Linked DNA regions of Homo sapiens. The protein of the gene in region 4 purifies or fractionates together with the protein of the main gene of each other region. This does not show direct contact. Each region holds a gene or a part of one and is shown on either strand. Other genes may lie near its edges.

The links.
Region 1: the proteins of ARRDC2 (region 4) and EPB41L3 purify together in Homo sapiens (affinity purification with mass spectrometry; one large-scale study listed by BioGRID and IntAct). This does not show direct contact.
Region 2: the proteins of ARRDC2 (region 4) and PPP6R3 purify together in Homo sapiens (affinity purification with mass spectrometry; one large-scale study listed by BioGRID and IntAct). This does not show direct contact.
Region 3: the proteins of ARRDC2 (region 4) and FARP2 purify together in Homo sapiens (affinity purification with mass spectrometry; one large-scale study listed by BioGRID and IntAct). This does not show direct contact.

Annotation. Positions count from the first base shown.
Region 1 is NC_000018.10:5,421,551-5,426,337, forward strand, and holds part of EPB41L3 (band 4.1-like protein 3), read right to left. Parts: intron 2,810-4,787; coding exon 2,712-2,809; intron 2,004-2,711; coding exon 1,828-2,003; intron 1-1,827. UniProt on the Homo sapiens protein: Tumor suppressor that inhibits cell proliferation and promotes apoptosis. Modulates the activity of protein arginine N-methyltransferases, including PRMT3 and PRMT5.
Region 2 is NC_000011.10:68,599,412-68,604,198, reverse strand, and holds part of PPP6R3 (serine/threonine-protein phosphatase 6 regulatory subunit 3), read right to left. Parts: intron 3,859-4,787; coding exon 3,705-3,858; intron 2,337-3,704; coding exon 2,230-2,336; intron 858-2,229; coding exon 707-857; intron 1-706.
Region 3 is NC_000002.12:241,361,945-241,366,731, reverse strand, and holds part of FARP2 (FERM, ARHGEF and pleckstrin domain-containing protein 2), read right to left. Parts: intron 1-4,787. UniProt on the Homo sapiens protein: Functions as a guanine nucleotide exchange factor that activates RAC1. May have relatively low activity. Plays a role in the response to class 3 semaphorins and remodeling of the actin cytoskeleton.
Region 4 is NC_000019.10:18,005,858-18,011,382, reverse strand, and holds the start of ARRDC2 (arrestin domain-containing protein 2), read right to left. Parts: upstream 3,214-5,525; 5' UTR 3,073-3,213; coding exon 2,799-3,072; intron 2,673-2,798; coding exon 2,606-2,672; intron 2,413-2,605; coding exon 2,265-2,412; intron 1,792-2,264; coding exon 1,689-1,791; intron 1,601-1,688; coding exon 1,344-1,600; intron 1,188-1,343; coding exon 1,025-1,187; intron 812-1,024; coding exon 654-811; intron 1-653.

The DNA of each region.
Region 1 (4,787 bases), on a different chromosome or scaffold from region 4:
AACTTCCTAGGCTAGCTCACAAAAGCCTGTAAGAATAATTATGAATATAAAATGTGGTATATATACATCATGGAATACTACTCAGTCATAAAAATGAATGAAATCATGTATTTTGAAGTGACTTGGATGGAGCTGAAGGTCATTATTCTACATGAAGTAACTGAGGAATGAAAAGCCAAATACCATACGTTCTCATGTATAAGTGGGAGCTAAGCTATGGGTATGCAAAGGCACAGAGTAATATAATGGACACTGGAGACTCAGAAGGCAGACAGTGGCGGGGGTGGTGGTGACGGATAAAAAACTACATATTGGGTACAATGTGCACTACTCAGGTGACAGGTGCACTAAAATCTCAGACTTCACTACTATACAATTCAGCCATGTGGCCAAAAACCGACTGCTTGTATCTCAAAAGCTACTGAAATTTTAAAAAAATGTGAAAAAAGAGTAATTATCAATATGATTATTGAGATAATTACCTATGTAACAAGAGTGCTTTCACATATATCTTGCTTTTCACAACAGCCCCGTCAAAGGCGGCCTTATTCCTATTATACAGATGACTAAAACAGACCTGGAGAGCTGAAATCATTTGTCAACCACCGCAGAGACAGAGGGCAGCAGAGCCTGGACTTCAATCTGGATTTACCCATGCCACAAGAGTACAGTTTCCACCTCGCTAGTAACATACATAATATAGCACTAATAATGCCATTTTGATTTCTTCTATAAACTGTTCATAAAGTATTCCATTAGAAAAAGACAGTTGTTTTTAGTTGGGAGATTCAAGGAGCACCTCTCCCCATCAATCACCCGGCTAGTGAAATGGGGAAGGCAGAGCTGAGACTCTCAGGGGAACAGTGGCAAAAAAGGTAGGAAAGGAGATGGTACCATGCACTTGTAACTTTTGTTTATTTTTATTTATGTTTTTCCTTATTATTTAAACCATACTTGCATACCAGAAACTCCTAATTCTTTTTATTTGCACAGGATAAGATCTTCTATTAAAAACAACAAATCTCCAGGTGCTCCAAATGAGAAGACAGAGACCTAGACATGATTCAGTTCCAGAGTATTGTTACAGCGGGCACGCCTTGCAGCAGAAAGTGTACCTCCATATTACTTCAGAGAGCAATCAAGAAACTGTTCGATAAAACAAAACCCTACTAAAAATTCACTGTTGTGTTATCCCCTAAAAAGGTAGTTTGAATGATCATCTCTCCATTTGACTAATTTAACTTGGCAGTACAGAACCCCTACCTAGCACTGTTCTCCCAGTCCATCTGGGGTAGTAATTAGCACAACTAGGAGAATTTAACTTACAACCCTGTGCTCTGTTATTTGAATGTCATCCTTTCTACCAGCTATTATCAACTGACTGATAAAGGTCACACTTTATTCATAAAGATTTTTTAGAAACAGAAATAAATTTAACTTATAGATTTATAAAACAAATGGTCTTAAACCTACCAATCCTTTAAGACCTGTTGGCAAGAGAATCAAATCACAGAGTATGTGACTACTATATTTAGAATGAGAGCATCTTTCTCCAAATTCAGGGTGTCAGCTTATGAAAGCTATTTTCTTCATTCCCGAAGTGCCATTCTTTTATGTAATTTTACATAAACCTGCAGATGTTAGACTGACAAAGGGACTTTCATTTCGCTGGGGGAGACTTAAAAATGTGCCATTCAGTCAATAAGCAACAACTGCTTTTCAACATACAATATCCAGGAATATCTATACTTACTGAAAGCTCATGACAGTTTCACATTCTTTTTGGGGTAGGTACTAGGTTATTAAGGGCCAGTAAGCGATGCCTACCTCCATCCAAGCTGCGAGACATGGTATAACGTTTGCTGGATGAGCGTTCAAAGTAAGGTGCTGGGCGATCTATCAACGCACTGGCTCTTCTCGTTTGCGCTTGTGTCCTGCCACTATAACGAAACTTGGAACCCAAGGTTAGGAATTTCTTGGGAGGTGCTTCTGGTAACAGTAGTCTAAAGAGAATAAAGAAAAACAGCAGAAAGACTATTAAGTCCAATATTGAGAGTGCTTTTTAAACTTTTTACTCTGAGAGGTCATGTGTTTTGCATGCTAAACATTTAACGCACAACTTGCAGTTAAATAAATCTGATTTCATAAAAGAATGCATATAGTATATATCAACTAGGGATATTGTAGAGAGGATATATGCAAATGAGGGTTGTACTGAACTAGATGAATTTTTAACATTCCACGCAAAGTGGACAGTCTATGGTTCTATAAGCCCAAACAGCTACTAAATAGTTTGATATTAGTGAAGAAGAAGAGTGACAATTTGGTGTTGGGTGCCTAATTTGATGGGTCTCGTACCATGCATAGGTAGGTAAAGGGATTCAGGGTATTGAGAAATCACTGAAATAGTAAGGAATTGAAATAGTAAGGAATGGATTGGATATTTGAAGTGGACACCCTAAAAATAATGTAAACACACTAAAGATACTAAAGAAGGGGGGTTTGGGACATGTAAGTACATGACAAATTAGGGAAAATCCTTCAAATTTAGTCTTTTTCTAGTTCTCTTAGGATTTCTTATCAAGAAATATGGTGACAATGAACTTGAAGGGATAGAAAGAATAAAATTCCATATTTTTTATTGACAATCTTTTTCAGTATAAGTGATTATAATTATTCCTTAGGGAAAAAACAAAATAATCTCTTCCTACCTGAAAAATGTATGATGCTCAACACATACTTTCCATAAACGCTTGGCAGCTCGATGGTTTGGCAGCTTAAACCCAATGGTGCTTTCAAATTGTTCAAACTAAATAAAAAAAAATACATTGAAGAGTAAAGTTTAAAATTATAAATAACAGAAGCCCTGTAAATAAATTACAGAATCATGATGCCACCAGAATTTTAAAAATTTACTTACTAGATCAATTGCTATATGCATAATTCATGCTATACAGATTCATTTGTTAATTTCAAAAATGTGTCTTTAAAATGCTGCAGGTATAAATAGCCACTTTATGCATACAGTAAAATGTCTTCTGAATAAGTGTGTATCTTATGATACAACTGAAAACCAAACACGAAAAGGGGTTTTTTTGATTTCTTCCAGAAATCAATTTGCCCTGATATCACTTTTAAACTTTTATTTTCATGGTTTCTCAATGACACAATGACTTCAACTGCAAGGTACAGAAATGAACAAAATGTTTACAAATATAGTCTACAGCATTCTTAGAAATGAGACTTTTCTCCTAATACCTGGGCAGGAAATATGTGTATTTCTTAGGTAGTTGATAACTTGGTGTCAGAGATTGCTGATTTTATTTGTGTGTTCCGCTATGGATTATCGTGTTAAATGCTAACGTCTCTCTATATCATACGTAAGATCAGAGATTGGGGGAACATATTTTCATATTTTTCAGCATGTACACTTCAGATGATGCCTTATCAGCCATTTGATTTTTCGAGGTGAAATACTCATCTCATTTCCTGCATAATATACTTTATTACTGCAGATGCACAGGTTTTCACATTCTGAAGAAGGTACACATCAGACCACCAGAGGGCAATCATCTTAAACAGTAAAGGCTTCCCCAAAGAGCACACAATGGGTACTACTGCTATAATCAATAGCAAAAATCATTTATATGGCAAAGAACCGAGGTGAGGGGTCATATGCATGGCATGTGAGATACAATCATGTTTGACCTCTATTTCTTGTTTGTTGAGGATGATTAGGGGAAGTGGGAAACACATCACAAATGCTTCAACCGCAATTGCCTTTCCCAACTTCTTATTCACTCTGGATGTTCATGTGCAGTGGTGTTTGTAAAAATCACTACTGTCTAAGGGACTCAGCCAAGACAGACATAGTGTGGCTTGTGACTAAATCATCATCCATTTATTCATCCTGCAACTAATATGCACATATTACGCCAATGCCAGGGGTTATATGGAAGAGTCAGCTTGCACTCTGCTGCAAGAAGCTGGGAAGAGTCTCTGCCAACCTCTGTAGGCAAGGATGATGCAGGCTCCTAGACTACCTGAATAGGTATTAATAGTTTATTAATATCTATTTCTCTGTGTTTTATATCAATTTCTTTCAACTTCTTCAGAGTCTGTGTGTCTCCAATTTCTTCTCACTCACTTTTCTCAGGCTGTAAATAGGATTGTAAAAGCAGAGAGAAGAGGAGTGAAAAACCAGCTCTCTCTGAGCCTGCTTATGCCAGCACCACAACCCCATCTCACTCCTCACTGCTAAACTTTAGGAAGCAGAAGCCACGACCTGCTGCCTCTGCTACCTACTCCTGACCTCAACACACCTGGCAGGTGCTCCTGTTGCCCTTCTGAACTCTGAAATGTCATCATGGGGCCTGACTGTTAAGTTCAACACACTTTTGTTAGTCCACATCCTGCGTGCCCTTTCTGTAACATATGATACTGCTAGCTAACCACTTTCCTCTGAAACTCATCTCCTGGTCATCCATCAGCCTGTTTCTTCTTTTATTTCTCTGGCTGTCATTTCTTCAGCTCCTTGGCCCTTTCTCAAATAGTGGTATTATCCAGAGTTCTAGTTTTGGGCCTTTTCTTTCTCTAACTTGCCTTGCTCTTTGAGTAATTTATTCCATGTCTAAGGCCTTGAATAAAATATATACAGTTGATAACTCTGTTCAACTCCTTCCTATGCAAGAGTTACTCCCTGAAAATCTGTTTCAAAGGGATTTCAGTTGTTTTTCTGAAATTTTCCCCCTTTTCCCTCCTGCCGAATGTCATCTCCATTGGCTTCA
Region 2 (4,787 bases), on a different chromosome or scaffold from region 4:
GAGAATAATTGCTCATGTATGAAATCAGTCTACAGTCAGTTTTCTTCTTTCACTCCTTGTTTTGTAGTGACCTCGCAATAAGCAGGGAGGCATTCCTTCTTGTAATGGCTGGAATGGTCTCTAAGACTAAAGCTCTAAGCACAGGCTTAGCTTCAGTCCTTAAGTTTTGACAGACATTTTTCCCATTATTCTCTCAGTTTTAGGTTTTTAATATCCATTACAATTCCTTTTTTGAGTTTAGAAGTGAATTTCTAAGGGTCACGTTCTTTTAAAGCTATCATTTTGCTACTGAATTTTCATGACTGCATTATGTCCTGAGATAATCATCTGTATGTTACTGAAAATAAGTAAAGGTTTTTGTAAAACCAGTCGACCTGAAACCGGTTTTCATGGGCCATGCTCTGTAGCCTGTTACACAAGCCAATTTCTATTGTGATTAAAGATTTATCAATTCTCATAGTTCTATCAAACTGCTAGATGTAAAATACAGTCTTCTGAACACATTTATGGGGGAAAAGGCACTTAGGGGCCTAAACTCTCCATCTCTTCATTAAGATTTATTGTGTTTAATGGAGACAACAGAAAGACATCAAGCTAGTATCTGAACATTCATTTGAATCAAATTAAAAATTTTAATGTTTGAGGTTTCTGCCCCACCATCCTCCCAATAACCTGAAGCTACCAGCAGGATCTCACCCCTGGTTACCTTTTGAAGACCGCAGTCTCTGTCTTGGCATCTACAGTGAGGCTGAGCGTTTCCTTCATGCCGCCATTCATCACTGTCTCAGTTACCTTGTCTGTACTTTCTGCATCCTCCTCTCCGTCAGAGCTGGCTTCCATGGCCACACTGCCTGCCGCTGAAAAGAACACAGCTGATGGTCACACACAGCAAGCCCGAAAAGGAACTGGCACCCCACCACTGTACAAACCCATCTACCCAACGTGACATCTACTGCTTGAAGAAAAAAAAGAGTGAGATGGCTTCTGCCTGCTGTTGTCTGGGCCACATTCTTGATGGGGAGAGACTTCTTAAAGATGCCCACTAAAGAGGGGTTTCATGGGTTTTCTTTACTAGAGACTAGCAAGTCGCCTACATCCCTCCCAGCTCAGCGTCCACCTCCATACCCAGCTTCTCCCAGCAGACACTTGTGCTCCTAACTGTTCCAGTGTGGGGCAGAGCAGGCAGTTACACACTCTACCCTCTACTCACTTGTTTTCCTCAGTTGGGCTCTATTTGCTTTGCTTTGTTTTAAAAATTACTTTCTTGTGGTGTTGCTGGTGGATCGTTTCTTTGTTCTCTAATGGGAAGCCAACATAGGTGATGAGCCTGGCTGAGGTGAGGCTTCCTGGATTCAAACATCGACATCACCACTTCCTAGCTGTAGACTACTTGGACAAGGAACCTCATCTATAACCTGAGTTTCCTCATCCAGGAAAGGGGATCAGTGCACCCACTTACAGAACCACTGAGGAGTCAAATGCGGGAATCTGTATCAAATGTTCAGGAGGATGATGAAACCAGCATTAGTTATTGGTTTTATTCCTTTCCCTTGCCCCTGGGAAGGAGGGTTCTCACACCCTCTACCAAAACCTCATTTCATTTTCTAAGAACTCACTCCTTAAGCCCACCTCATGATTCGTGCCCTCCACATCCTTTTGGTTCCCATCACACTCCCTTTGCTAGCATCCCCCTCCTCCCAAAGCCCCGTCCATCAAGGTGAAAACAGTTCAGGGCCGTGCAAGGAACACATTTGACTAGGTAGAGTAATAGGAAAACCCACTGGAACTTTAGAGATTCCCAGGACTATTCAATCTGCTTACAATGGCGAAGTGAAAATAACCAGCCCCATAGCTCTAAACAAACCCAGATACACCTACATGCTTGAGCAAAGCAAACTCCAAGGGACAACTACACACAGGCTTGGCTGCACACGTCTAATTCCAGTTTTATTCACCCTGGGTACTATGGGCTTAGGCCTTCTTCCCTCTAGACCTCAGTTTCCTAATCTGCACACTGCATGCCTGGTAACTTAGAGCCCTTACTCTTTCCAGAGTCAGCATGCTGTGGTTCTAGAAGGACAGGCACAATTTCTTTCATCAGCTGCCCTGTGGACATCAGACCCACCATCTCACTCCCGGGCTCCACTAGCCCCTGAGCCTGAGAATCAGGTCTGGTTTGACAAAGCAGCCACGTGACCCTGGCGTGTACCCAGGCCTCTCTGCACGCACCTTCTGGCTGCACTGCCAGGGCAGCCGCACTGGGAGTCAGAGGGTCCATGGGTTCAGTGCTGGTTTCCATTTCCACTGGAGAATTACTCCTTAAAGAATCTTTTGTGCTTTCAAAAAAGAGAAAATTCAGATATTAGCAGCAGGGAATGGTCCTCAGTTACCCCAAGATTCACAATAAGCCTTTACAAGTAAGTTTTTGTTAGGAGACATTAGCATCTGTGTAAGAGTCACTGGGTTACAAACTCCAGTGACACATGGATCTAAGTGCCAGTAGCTGTTTGAAGAAGGACATGAGTGCGGGCAGGCAAATGTTCTGTTAAGCCAGCAAGGCAGTAAGACAGGGACTTTGTAAAGCATTCTAGACAGGCTCATCATGTCCCAACTTCTCATCCCACCATAGTCACTAGGAGGCTCCCAGAGCTTGAACAGCAAAGACGTACATTGTGCAATGGCAACGGTATTTATCAGGTTGACTGGTTTTACAAAAACCTTTACTTATTTTCAGCCACACTGCCTGGGAGAGACTGGCCCTCTTAATGATATTTGTTGTTGGAACTGTGGAAACATAGTAAAAAAACACCAAATGCCTGAGCAGTAAGGGGTAGGGGTGAGGGAGATCATTACACTTCCTCTTTTATCCCTCATTCCCACAAACTCAGAGACGTGCACACAGAGGGTAAAGAGAAGCAAGCTGCTTCAATCACACCCTCAAGTAACCAAAGGCTCTTATCCTCGGGTTATAAACAGACCAAAAAAAGGAGTAGGCGGAAATGTATGTCCTGTACTGAAAAGCGGGGTAGACGAAATAACTCATTATTTTGGAGACATTTTTCACAAATCTCACTTGTACCTCTGAGTAGTAACTTAATGCTATTACTATGGTTACTACAAAGCAACATGGGTTTCAGCCTATTCTTTGGTTTGTCTAAGACACTAACTGTCAGCCCAAAACAGCTTGTCTTCCTATCTTCCGAGTTACCAATGATTGGGAGCCCTTAATTGACAGCACTGGACTAGCTGCAAGTGAACTGTAAGTTCATATTATCTACTGAATTCAAGATCCATTTTGTTTGCCTGCCACACCCCACACAGAGGTGCTGTGCCTGTCAGGATTTCTTGGCTTCACCTCATTCCTCTTCTCCTCAATTCTGTCCTGACAGCTCTATGAAGCCAGAAAAGCTCACGGAGATGCATCTTCTGCTGCGTCCTGCTAACTCCCTGGGACCGCATCCTCACAAGCTACTTTGTTCAAGAACTACTCCCATTTCCAATTAATCCAGGAGGAAAGGAAAGGAAGATGGTGATTGTTCTTCTTACAACACAGAGCTGTGTTAGTATGCTGATGTTTAATCTTTTTCAGGGCAGTATATTCAACTTGGAAGTCAGTCAAGGTGAAGAACACACGTTAACAGCAAACACCTGACCATTCCCAGGTCCCCCGTGGAAGGGTGTAGAGACAGCACATGTTCGCTCACCTCAGGGAAGACGTGAACTCTGAAAAAGAAGCCCAGCCCGTCTCTTTAGTTGGCATCGGCTCCTCTGTGCTCCAGACATCAGATCCCACAGAATCCAATGGAGCACCGTGGGTTGTTTCCATTGGGACATCAAAGTTAGCTGACCAGTTGGGTGCTAAAAAGAGGGGAGAAATTCTATTTGGAAAACACTTCAGTCGTTTCATGTACCACAAGGTATTTATCAAAAACACATTAGCAAAAGAGACTGGAGCTGTGGGAGAAAGACACTCTCACCAATGAGGGCAGGAGCGGACAGGGCACAGCCACCTGGAGGGCACTCTAACAATGATCCCACATTCTCAAACCTCCCATTTCTTTTTATTATTATTTTTTTGAGATGGAGTCTCGCTCTGTCGCCCAGGCTGGAGTGCAGTGGCACGATCTCCGCTCACTGCAAGCTCCGCCTCCCGGGTTCACGCCATTCTCCTGCCTCAGCCTCCTGAGTAGCTGGGATTACTGGCACCCGCCATCACGCCTGGCTAATTTTTTGTATTTTTAGTAGAGACAGGTTTCACTGTGTTAGCCAGGATGGTCTCAATATCCCGACCTCGTGAACCGCCCGCCTTGGCCTCCCAAAGTGCTGGGATTACAGGCGTGAGCCACCGCGCCTGGCCTCAAACCTCCCATTTCTAACAACTGTTCCAAAAGAAATACTACACAGAGATTCAAAGCTACATGCACAAAGAGGGATTAATGTTAATTTCTTAGTTTTGACAAATGTACCATGGCTGTATTCATACTTGGGGAAGCTAAGTGAAGGATATATGGAGACTTACTATCTTGGCAATGTTTCTATAAATCTAAATTATTCAAAAGTAAAAAGGTTATTTTTCTAAAAAAAGAACATGTTGATTATTCAACTCCAATAAACTAGAAATAACCTTAATGCTTCCCAGTCCGGGTCTGACTGCACTTCGCCCATTCTGCGGGCTCCCTGCAGTGCACTGCAGTTAGGCTTCCTAAGTCCTGCAGAACCAGGTCTGGCCTCAGAGGCTGAAGCGGCAGGACTTGCTTGAGCACACTTACGGTCTGTGGGGCTCTTCT
Region 3 (4,787 bases), on a different chromosome or scaffold from region 4:
GAGAACAAATGGAAAGAAAATGTGTTCTTGATTTCTACTAATTTATAGTGTTTGGTAGCCAAAAATTAAATATACCCCATAAAATCATGTTATCACAATCTTCCTACCTTAGCATAATGCAACAGTGGCTAAATGTGTGCAAGAAAAGGAAGATCACTTTCAGACAAATTCAGCAACATAGTACACAGACTAATTGTTCCAAAGAGATTTCTTTCTACATAACTAATATTTGAAAATCTTACTTTTACTCCCCAGGTTATTTTTTTTAATTGCCTGAACACTAAACGGATGTATTATTTCCTTTAGAGTGTATTTTAGATCCTCTACAACCTGGTATCCTGATTTTATGTTAAACAAAATTCTACAAACTGAAAAGCAGAAGTTTTAGGAGCTGAAGTGAATCTGGATAACTGATTCTCAACACTTCTGTGGGGGATGGTATGAAGCCATCCAATTTAACATCAAAATCTTTACAGAAAAAAGCAAGATCTGTATATGCTGCTTTGGTGTGAAAGTGAATAAAAGGTGCAAAACCAGGTGCATGGCATGCTAACCTCTGTTAAAAGAGGAAGAAAATATATATGTGTGTGTGTATATATATATATATACGTATATATATATATATATTTTTTTTTTTTTAGTAGTGATGAGGTCTCACTAGGTTACCCAGGCTGGTCTCGAACTCTCAGGCTCAAGTGATGCCACTGCTTTAACCTCCCAAAGTGGTATGTATTTGTTTATATTAAAAAAAAAAAAAGAGCATAAACCAAAAACTAATGAAAATGGTTACCTATGAGGGAGGAAGTGAAAGGGGTAAACAATGTTGGAAACTGTACACGGTGTTTAGTAGTTTTGATACGGGAACCTCATAAATGGTTTCACATAATTAGAAAGCAAAATTAAATCAATATTTTAGAAAAGCAAGTCCTAAAAACCCAAACGAAATGAAACAAATGGTCTTAACTGTAAATCAAGACATCAGCTAAACTAAAGAAAATTACTTCAAGTGACTTCAAAGCCCAGTAACTTCATTCTACGTCACCAGGAAAATATATCCTAAGGAATAAAAGAACCACAAAGAAATCCTACAGGAGAAATGACCTTGTCTCTTTGGTAAATGGCAACAAAAAAAGGAAACGGTGTGTGTATGTGTGTAAATAAAAACTACTAAGACATGTTATCTATAAGGTATGATGTTATCAAATGCTATATATAGGACCTCATTTGAATCCTGAATCAAATATTTACAGATCAGAGAAATACGAATGCTAACTAAGCATCAGATGATATTAAGAGGTTAATATTATTTTCTAGTGTTTTAGTGGTATTGTGGGTACATGAAGGGGAAAAAAGTCCCTCTCTTAGAGATGGATACTAAAGCATTTATGGATAAAATGAAATAATATCTAGCATTTACTTAAAAATAATCCAACGAGTTGGGGATCAGTGGAAGTGGGTACAGGAAAAAAAGATTGTCCATGTGTTGATTATTGATGCTGTATACATGGGCTTTGATTTATTATTTTCTCTACTTTTGTGAATGTTTGGAATTTTCCACAAGTCAAAACAAAAAACAAATCTAGCAATAATTTTTGATGTACATAAGGATTCAAGGAACCCATGCAAGAGTTCAAGCTGAGAGAGAGGGAGAGAGAAGCTCCTACTTTATGAAATCCTGGCCCAGTCTCTACTTTCCATAAGAAACTACAGCCTTGAAAACGAAGCTGCTTGCTCAAGGCCACAGACCTGATTTGTGCAGGGGTGAGACTAATATCCGGCATGGCTCCCAGTCCAACAGATTACAGTGCAAATTCTTCAAGACTAAAAAACATAAGACTATATTTACAGGGATTATTTCTACAGTTCATTACTAGAGAAGTTTCTCTCAGGATGTAGAGCAGAAAAGATATATTAAAAATGACTGTGAAGGAATAGTTGTCAAGAAAAAATGAAAAGTATTAAAAAGATTAAAAACAAACAAAAAACTGATTTAAAGAACTGTAAATCCATGCATTATGAATTCACTCTTTCATCCATTTTATTTCAGTTATTGTATTTTTCACTAAAATTCCCACTTCTTTATATCTTCTGTTTTCTTGCCAAGACTTTCTATATTTCCATCTGTTTCAAGAGTAGCTTTACTTCTTGGACTATTTTAATAATAGGGGCTTTATAAAGTTTTATTTATTTTTTAACTGTAGCCTTAACAAATTTCCACAAACTTAGCAGCTTAAAATAACAGCCTTTTATTATCTCACAGTGTCTACGGGTTAGAAGTTTGAGTGTAATGTAACTCACCAGAATTCTCTGCTTAGGGTCTCAAAAGGTCTAAGTCAAGGTGTCAGCTGACCTGGGGTCTTATGTGGATTTCCTTGGGGGAGAATACACTTACAGGCTCATTCAAGTCTGTGTGGGTAGAGGACTGAGGTCCTTAGTTCTTGCTGGCTGTCAGCTGTTTGTCATTCTCATTCCTTGGCTCATGGCCCCTTCCATCTTCCATGCCAGAAATGTTACGTTGAAAACTTCTTATACTTCCAGTCTCTCTGCCTTCCCCATCTGCTACCAGCTGGAGGAAGATCCCTGCTTTTAAAGGCTCATATAATTACCTAAGGCCCACCTGGATAATCTAGACAACGAATCCAGGCTAGTTGATTCGTACCCTTCATTACATCTGCAATGTGCTTTTGCCAAATCAGTCACATACTCCCAGGATAAACACTAGGAGGTCAAGCTCATGGAGGCCACAAATCTGCAGACCACAGTCTATCAGATAATTCCAACATAGGCACCACCTCAGCTTTAGCCTGTGTCTTTTTTCACGAGTTATTTTCCTGGTTCTTCACATGCTGAGTAAATTTTGCATTGTATCCTGGACATTTTTAACATCACACTCTTAGAGACTCTTGATCTTGTTTAAATCCTATGGGGAATGCTGGTATTTTGTTGAGCAGGCACTGGCCTGGCTGGATTCAGTCCCCAGGTCCTGACCAGCCTTCTGTAGAACATGGTATCAGTGTCACTTTCACTTTCAAAGCCTTTGCAGTGCTCCTCAGCAATGTCCTGCGGTCCCTACTTGCTTGGTGGCCAGCCTGCCTTCCAGGCGATGGTCTATCCCATAGCCGAGTTCCGTCTTTGGCAACCTGTTCTGGCTCACATCACGCGTGCATAGCTCAGTGTTGAGCCTATAAGTTAACTAACAACTTCATGGGGTCACTTTCCTGAGCAATTCCCTCTCTGGAATCTCCCTAGTATCCCTTCCAGTGACCTGGGCTCCCCTTTTCAGACTCCAACCAGAAACCTACGGCTTTAATTACTCCGTTTAGCCATGCTATTCTTGTGCCTGCATCTTGCCTGGGACTGAGCTGCAGGAGGGAAGAGAATAAAAAGGCAACTGGGGTTTTCCCCATTCCCTAAGAGTTTTAGGTGTTCACACACTCCTGCCACTGCAGGGCTGAGTGGAGGAGAGGAAGCAAGAGGGAAAAAAATAATGGCTTTCTCCCACTTTCTGTCTTGGGGCCCAACTACAAAACTACTCTGTAGCTCTCCCTGTTCATACTGGGTACCTGCCTTCAGGTTTTGGACAGCCAGAGTCCAGGGCAGGGGATGCTGAAGGGAAGACAAGAAACTCACTACTGGTGCAAAGTGGTGCTTCAAATTCTGGCCTTCTCTCCCATCCGCCTGTTACCGTTTACTTGTCGGAGTCCTCAACAGCTGCTCCATGCACATGTCCAGGTCTTACAGCCACAGACAGTGGGAGAGGCAAGATGGAGTATGCTCCCTCCACCTCCCAGAACCACAGCTCCACATCCATGCATTTTAAAATACATTTATAGTGGTTATCATTGGGAGGGGTAAGAGGATTGATTTTTATTTCCTTCTTCCTAATTTTCTGTATTTGTCAAATCACCTACAGTGACGAGTATACATTATCTTTGAAGTCAGATGGTTTCTCTGCAGAATCCTGCAGAAGTACTACCAGCTTTAAAAGTCTTAACTGATAGGGGCTACCTACAGTATGCCATTACTTACCTTCCAAGAGAAAGCTGGAATAACTGTCTTTCCCCTTAGAGTTGTATTTGCTCTTCTTTCAAAAATAGTTCAATTAAAAATTAATATATATATATATTTTTGAGATGGAGTCTTGCTCTGTCACCCAGGCTGGAGAGCAGTGGCGCAATCTCGCCTCACTGCAAGCTCCGCCTCCTGGGTTCACGCCATTCTCCTGCCTCAGCCTCCCGAGTAGTTGGGATCACAGGCGCCCGCCACCATGCCCGGCTAATTTTTTGTGTTTTTAGTGAGATGGGGTTTCACCATGTTAGCCAGGATGACCTTGATCTCCTGACCTCATGATCTGCCCACCTCAGCCTCCCAGAGTGCTGGGATTACAGGCATGAGCCACCACGCCTGGCCAAAATTAATATTTTTAAACACTCTCTGGGTTCCATTTCTTGTTCAGATACTGATACTTGTTTTCCAACATTCATCTTATTAACTACTATACTAACAAAGCAACTGAGATTTTAATCATAAAGGGGGACCGGGCGTGATGGCTCACACCTGTAATCCCAGCACTTTGGGAGACGGAGGCAGGTGGTTTACTTGAGGTCAGGAGTTTGAGACCAGCCTGGCCAACATGGCGAAACCCTGTCTCTACTAAAAATACAAAAAAATTGGCTGGGCGTGGTGGCGTGTGCCTGTAATCCCAGCTACTTGGGAGACTGAGGCAGGAGAATCGCTTGAATGTGGGAGGCGGAGGTTGCAGTGAGCCAAGATTGCACCACTGCACT
Region 4 (5,525 bases):
AGATGGGAGGATCATTTGAGCCCAGGAGTTCAAGACCAGCCTGGGCAACACAGTGAGACCACATTTCTACAAAAAATACAAAAATTGGCCGGGCGTGGTAGCTCACGCATATAATCCCAGCACTTTGGGATGCCGAGGCAGGCCATCACCTGAGGTCAGGAGTTCAAGACCAGCCTGACCAACATGGTGAAACCCCGTCTCTACTAAAAATACAAAAATTAGCCACGTGTGGTGGCTAACACCTGTAATCCCAGCTACTCGGAAGGCTGAGGCAGGAGAATCGCTCTACCAGGGATGCGGAAGTTGAAGTGAGCTGAGATCGCACCATTGCACTCCAGCCTGGGTGACAAGACTGAAACTCCATCTCAAAAAGCAAAGCAAAACAAAACAAAACACAAAAATTAGCAGGATGTGGTGGCGTGTGCCTGTAGTCCCAGCTACTCAAGAGGCTGAGGCGAAAGGATTGCTTGAGCCCGGGAGGTCGAGGCTGCAGTGAGCTATGATTATGCCACTGCACTCCAGCCTGGGTGACAGAGCAAGACCCTGTCTAAAAAAACAAAAAAACAAAAAAAACCCATCTACTATGTCTGCCACCCCATCAAGGCTCCCAGGGCCCAGAGAGGCATGGGTGGTTCTCAGACCCCTGAGCTCACCTCAGAGTACAGGGGTGGCGGGCGGTAGCGGAACTCTTGGATGTAGGCGAAGAACGGGCCTTCAAGGCTCATGTCGGGGTCCTGCGGAAGCGGGAAGGGGCTCTGCCCCAAGGCTGCCTCCTCAGTGTCGGCTACCACCTCCGAGTACTCAGGAGGAGCTGGAAGCGAGAGACAGGGTGGGTGAGGTTGGCAGGAGAGAGCCCTGCTCCAAGGGACCAGGGGCCAGGAGCTGGCTTGTGCCAGCTCTGGGGCTGCCAGGCTGTATGTCCTTTGGTTGGGATTCCGGGGGACTCGTGGTGAGAGAGTTGACCCGGCATCCACCTCTCCGTGTATCCACCCACCCTCTGCATGCAAGCAGGGTGGGAGCTTACCCTCAGGCCGCTCCGGCAAGGCCCCCAGCCTCCAGTCCAGCAGGAAGCTGGCGTGGCTGCCCACGCTGGAGGAACGGCTGCCAAAAGGGTGCAAGGGAATGGTGCCGATCACCAGTGGCAGCTCCAGCAGCAGCTTGGACGTTCCTGGGATATCCACACAGACCTGGAGGAAGGAACCATAAGGGAGGGTGCCCAGGCAGCCTCCCCAACCCCCACCTCCCTCCTATGCCTGGGGAGACTGAGGCCTCAGCTTCCCCCAGTCTGAGGGAATACAGGGTGAATGTAGGCACTGTCCCCCAGGGCCAGCAGGATGCCCTACCTTGAGTGCGTAGTCCACGTGTAGAACGCGGCAGTGCAGGATGGAAGGACCCACTGGGGGGATCCGCAGTGCCCGGCCCTGCCACAGCGCCCGCTGCCCGGGGCCCACCGGCTCGCCCGCGAGGCTGGCCACCACTGCCCGTTTCTGCTTTCGGGCGCCTCGGGCCATGAACGTCTGTGTCTGCACCACGGCTGCCCGAGGCAGCACAGGACGTGTGGAGCCGTTGTCGATCTCGGCAAAGACAGGGATGACCTCTCCTGCAGCAAGGAGCAGTGGGGCCTCAGTTTCCCCTCCTGCAACCCCAACACCAGCCCCCGTCCCAACCCAGTCCGGTCCGCCTGCTACCTGGGGTGTAGCCCTTGCGGTCGATCTTGGCCGAAAGGGAGACTAGGCCACGGTTACAGTACCAGGATCGGGCAACCTTTTCCCGAGCCCCCGCTTGAGGTGCCTGTCGGTGTAGAGGAAAGTGACATGGATGAGTCACTTTGTGCAAACCACAGTCGCTGTGGAGCTTCCAAACCACCCCCAGCTGAGGGAGGACTTTGGGCAGGGCTTGGTTTCTTTTTAACAATCCAGGAACTATCCGTTAAATAGAGCCAGGAACACAACCCATCTTATAAAGCCAGAAATGAAATGTATAAGCCAAGTGTTTGGTGTGTAATTCACACTTGGTAAGCCCTAGCTCTGGTCTATTTCACAGAAGAGGCATCTGAGGCTCAGAGAGGGCTTCAAGACACTTGCCCAGAGTCACACGGCAAATGGGTGCAGATCCCAGTGGATTCCACACGCATTCCCACACCTGCCTCCCTCCCTGCCAGGGCCCACCTATGACCTCCATCTTATTGGTTGGTGTCGCCCAGCAGCCAGGCAGGCCCCTTCCTACAATACTCCCAACCTACCTCCCCAAGGGTGGCCACTCACCAGCAGGGCTGGCGTGTTGATGTCCACAGGCTCGATGACAGTGAACACCTTCCTTGCCCGGCGTGCTGGGACCCAGGGCCGGTGCAGGGTGGCCTTGATACAGTAGCGGACACTACCGTGTTTGCCCTCGAAGGATGTCACCAGGGTCCTAGGGTGGAGGGACGGGACTTCAGGGGACAAGATACAGAGACAAGCAGGCAGGGAGAAGGAGACACAGACACTCCGGGGGCCTCCCAGGGGGAGAGTCTTGGGGCTCAGAGGTGCCCAGATATCCAGTATTGGAGGTACCAATCTGGAAGGGGCTGCAGGCTTAGGGCAACCCTGCACCCCAGAGGACTTACGGGGGCAGCTGGAAGCTGAACAGGAACTCATGGCGCCCAGGAGGCAGCGTCGTGGTCTCCCCGGTATCTGCAGGTAGGAGAAAAAGGAGGCGACTGAGCGGTTGCGCTGGGGTCCCAGGGCTGACGGAGGTACCGCCGTCCAGGTGGTGGGAGGCACACAACTGGTGTTGGAGCAGGGGTCCTCCATCCGTACCTGGCGCCAGGAGCGTGGCGCGGTGGCTCACGACCTCCACGCGTTCACTGTAGCTCTGCGTGTAAGCCGTGCTCGAGCCCGCGCTGCGCGACTCGGTCCAGTGCACGTGGGCGCGGCCCCGCGCGCGCAGCCTCAGGGCACCCACACGCGCGGCGCTTGACAGCTCCAGCAGCACCCGGCCCGCCACGGCCTGGCCGCCGCTAAACACGGGCTCGACGCCCGCGGTCGCGCCGTCCAACTGCACCGAGAACGCTTTCACCTTGTCGAATAGCATCGCGTCCGGGGTGCGAACCCACGACAGGCGGAACCTGGCCTCGAACTCGCGAACCGGCAGCTCAAGATGCCGACGCTGCAGCCTCAGAACGCAAAATCGCCGTCAACGCGCAGGCGCGCTCACCAACCGGAGCAGAAAATCCCCGCGCCGTGCGTCGGCGCCGCTTTTATACGGCAGGGCGGGGGGGGGTGGGGTCACCGTCTCTTCCCCGCCCCGGGAAGGGACTCCACCAATAGCGCGACAAGGGGCGTGGCTCTGCCCAGGCGTGGAGCAAAATAACAAACGCCCCTGCTCACCGCCGGCTGCCCCCTTCCCTCGCGGACCCCGGGGAGAAACTGAAGCCCTTAGGCTGCCAGAGCTGGTCTCTCGCGGACCCCGGGGGTAAAGAGGAAAAAAAGAGGTGCAGAGGCAGGGCCCAGGCCTGAGGTCACCTAGCAGAGCCTTCAGCCTCTCGGCTTAATCACTCACCAGCCGCCCCTCGTTGACGTGACTCGAGGCATGTCCAGCCCGATTTGGGGCGGGGGACTCTCGCCCCAGTTGAGGGCCAGAGAGCCTATGACTGTTCCAGGCCTGTTTCCCCCGCTATGCAAAGGGAGAAGTGGAGGAGGTGGGTGGGACCGCCCTCCACACTGGTGCCTGCTGCACCCCTTTCCTGATTCAAGTCCCGCTTAGCTGGTGGCTCTGGGCAAATGACAACCTCTTGGAGCCTCAGTTTCCACCTCTGTAGAGCCGGGAGAAAGTAAAAATCAGTCCTGACCTCAGAAGGTTGTGCATGGATCATCGTGCAGCCCCAGCTGGACTCCTCCAAGAGCCTCGCTCCCGGGTCATCAACCTGCTCTTGACATACCGTCACTCGGTCGCGCCTCGGCGCATTCGCCCAGGAGCGGTACCTACGAAATGATGTTCCCTTCCCAATTTTCAGCCTCTGGCAAACCCTACCTTCCCCGCAGCCCTTGTGCCTGCTCCAGTCATCCTCAGCCCCCGTCCCGCCACAGAGCTGAATGCAGGGGACGCTCGGGCACCCCCAGGTCCACAGCTGCGGTGTGGCCACGGGACGGCGTGACCTCTCTCTGGGCTTCAGTTTCCCCAAAGAAAAGTCGCATGGAGTTTCTCCAGCGGGAGTTGCCTCTGCGTCGTCTGCGGGACGCTGGCGCCCTCTCGTGGCAGCGTAATGCGCTGCCGCTGAACCCATCCCCTGCCGTGACTGTCCGCCTCTGAGCCTGGCTCAGGAGACTTCCACCACCTCAGTGAGGTGTGTGGGTGGAGGGGGCGGTCATAAACAAACACGGTCACCCTCAGCCCGTGATGGGGATCGGAACAGGAACGACGGAGTTGGAGGCACAGTGATCAGCCTGGAAGGCTGCCTGGGAGGATGGGTCTTTGGAGTTGAAAGGAAGGTCTGGGACCTTAGGCCAGGTTTCAATGGATACTAGAGGGGAGACAGTAGGCCGTTAAGTCCGGGAGGAGAAGCGGGATTAGGTAACCCTGAAGGGACTACTGAGCCAGCGCCTCCCTCAATTCATTTCGCAGACGGACCCCAAAGGCCCAGAGATGGGTGGGGCTCTGCCCGAGGTCACACAGCACCTCCACTGGCCTCGCCCCTCCAGTGTCACTGTTTTTTCCTTAAATGTATAACAATTTAACAATTTTTAAGCTCCCTCTCCCTCTCCCTCTCCCCTTGGTCTCCCTCTCCCTCTCTTTCCACGGTCTCCCTCTCATGCCGAGCAGAAGCTGGACTGTGCTGCTGCCATCTCGGCTCACTGCAACCTCCCTGCCTGATTCTCCTGTCTCAGCCTGCCGAGTGCCTGCGATTGCAGGCGCGCGCCGCCACGCCTGACTGGTTTTTTTGGTGGAGAAGGGGTTTCGCTGTGTTGGCCCGGCTGGTCTCCAGCTCCTAACCTCGAGTGATCCACCAGCCTCAGCCTCCCGAGGTGCCGGGATTGCAGACAGAGTCTCGTTAACTCAGTGCTCAATGGTGCCCAGGCTGGAGTGCAGTGGCGTGATCTCGGCTCGCTACAACCTCCACCTCCCAGCCGCCTGCCTTGGCCTCCCAAAGTGCCGAGATTGCAGCCTCTGCCCGGCCGCCACCCCGTCTGGGAAGTGAGGAGCGTCTCTGCCTGACCGCCCATCGTCTGGGATGTGAGGAGCCCCTCTGCCTGGCTGCCCAGTCTGGAAAGTGAGGAGCGTCTCTGCCCGGCCGCCATCCCACCTAGGAAGTGAGGAGCGCCTCTTCCCGGCCGCCATCCCATCTACGAAGTGAGGAGCGTCTCTGCCCGGCCGCCCATCGTCTGAGATGTGGGGAGCGCCTCTGCCCCGCCGCCCCGTCTGGGATGTGAGGAGAGCCTCGGCCCGGCCGCGACCCCGTCTGGGAGGTGAGGAGCGTCTCTGCCCGGCCGCCCCGTCTGAGAAGTGAGGAGCCCCTCCGCCCGGCAGCCGCCCCGTCTGAGAAGTGA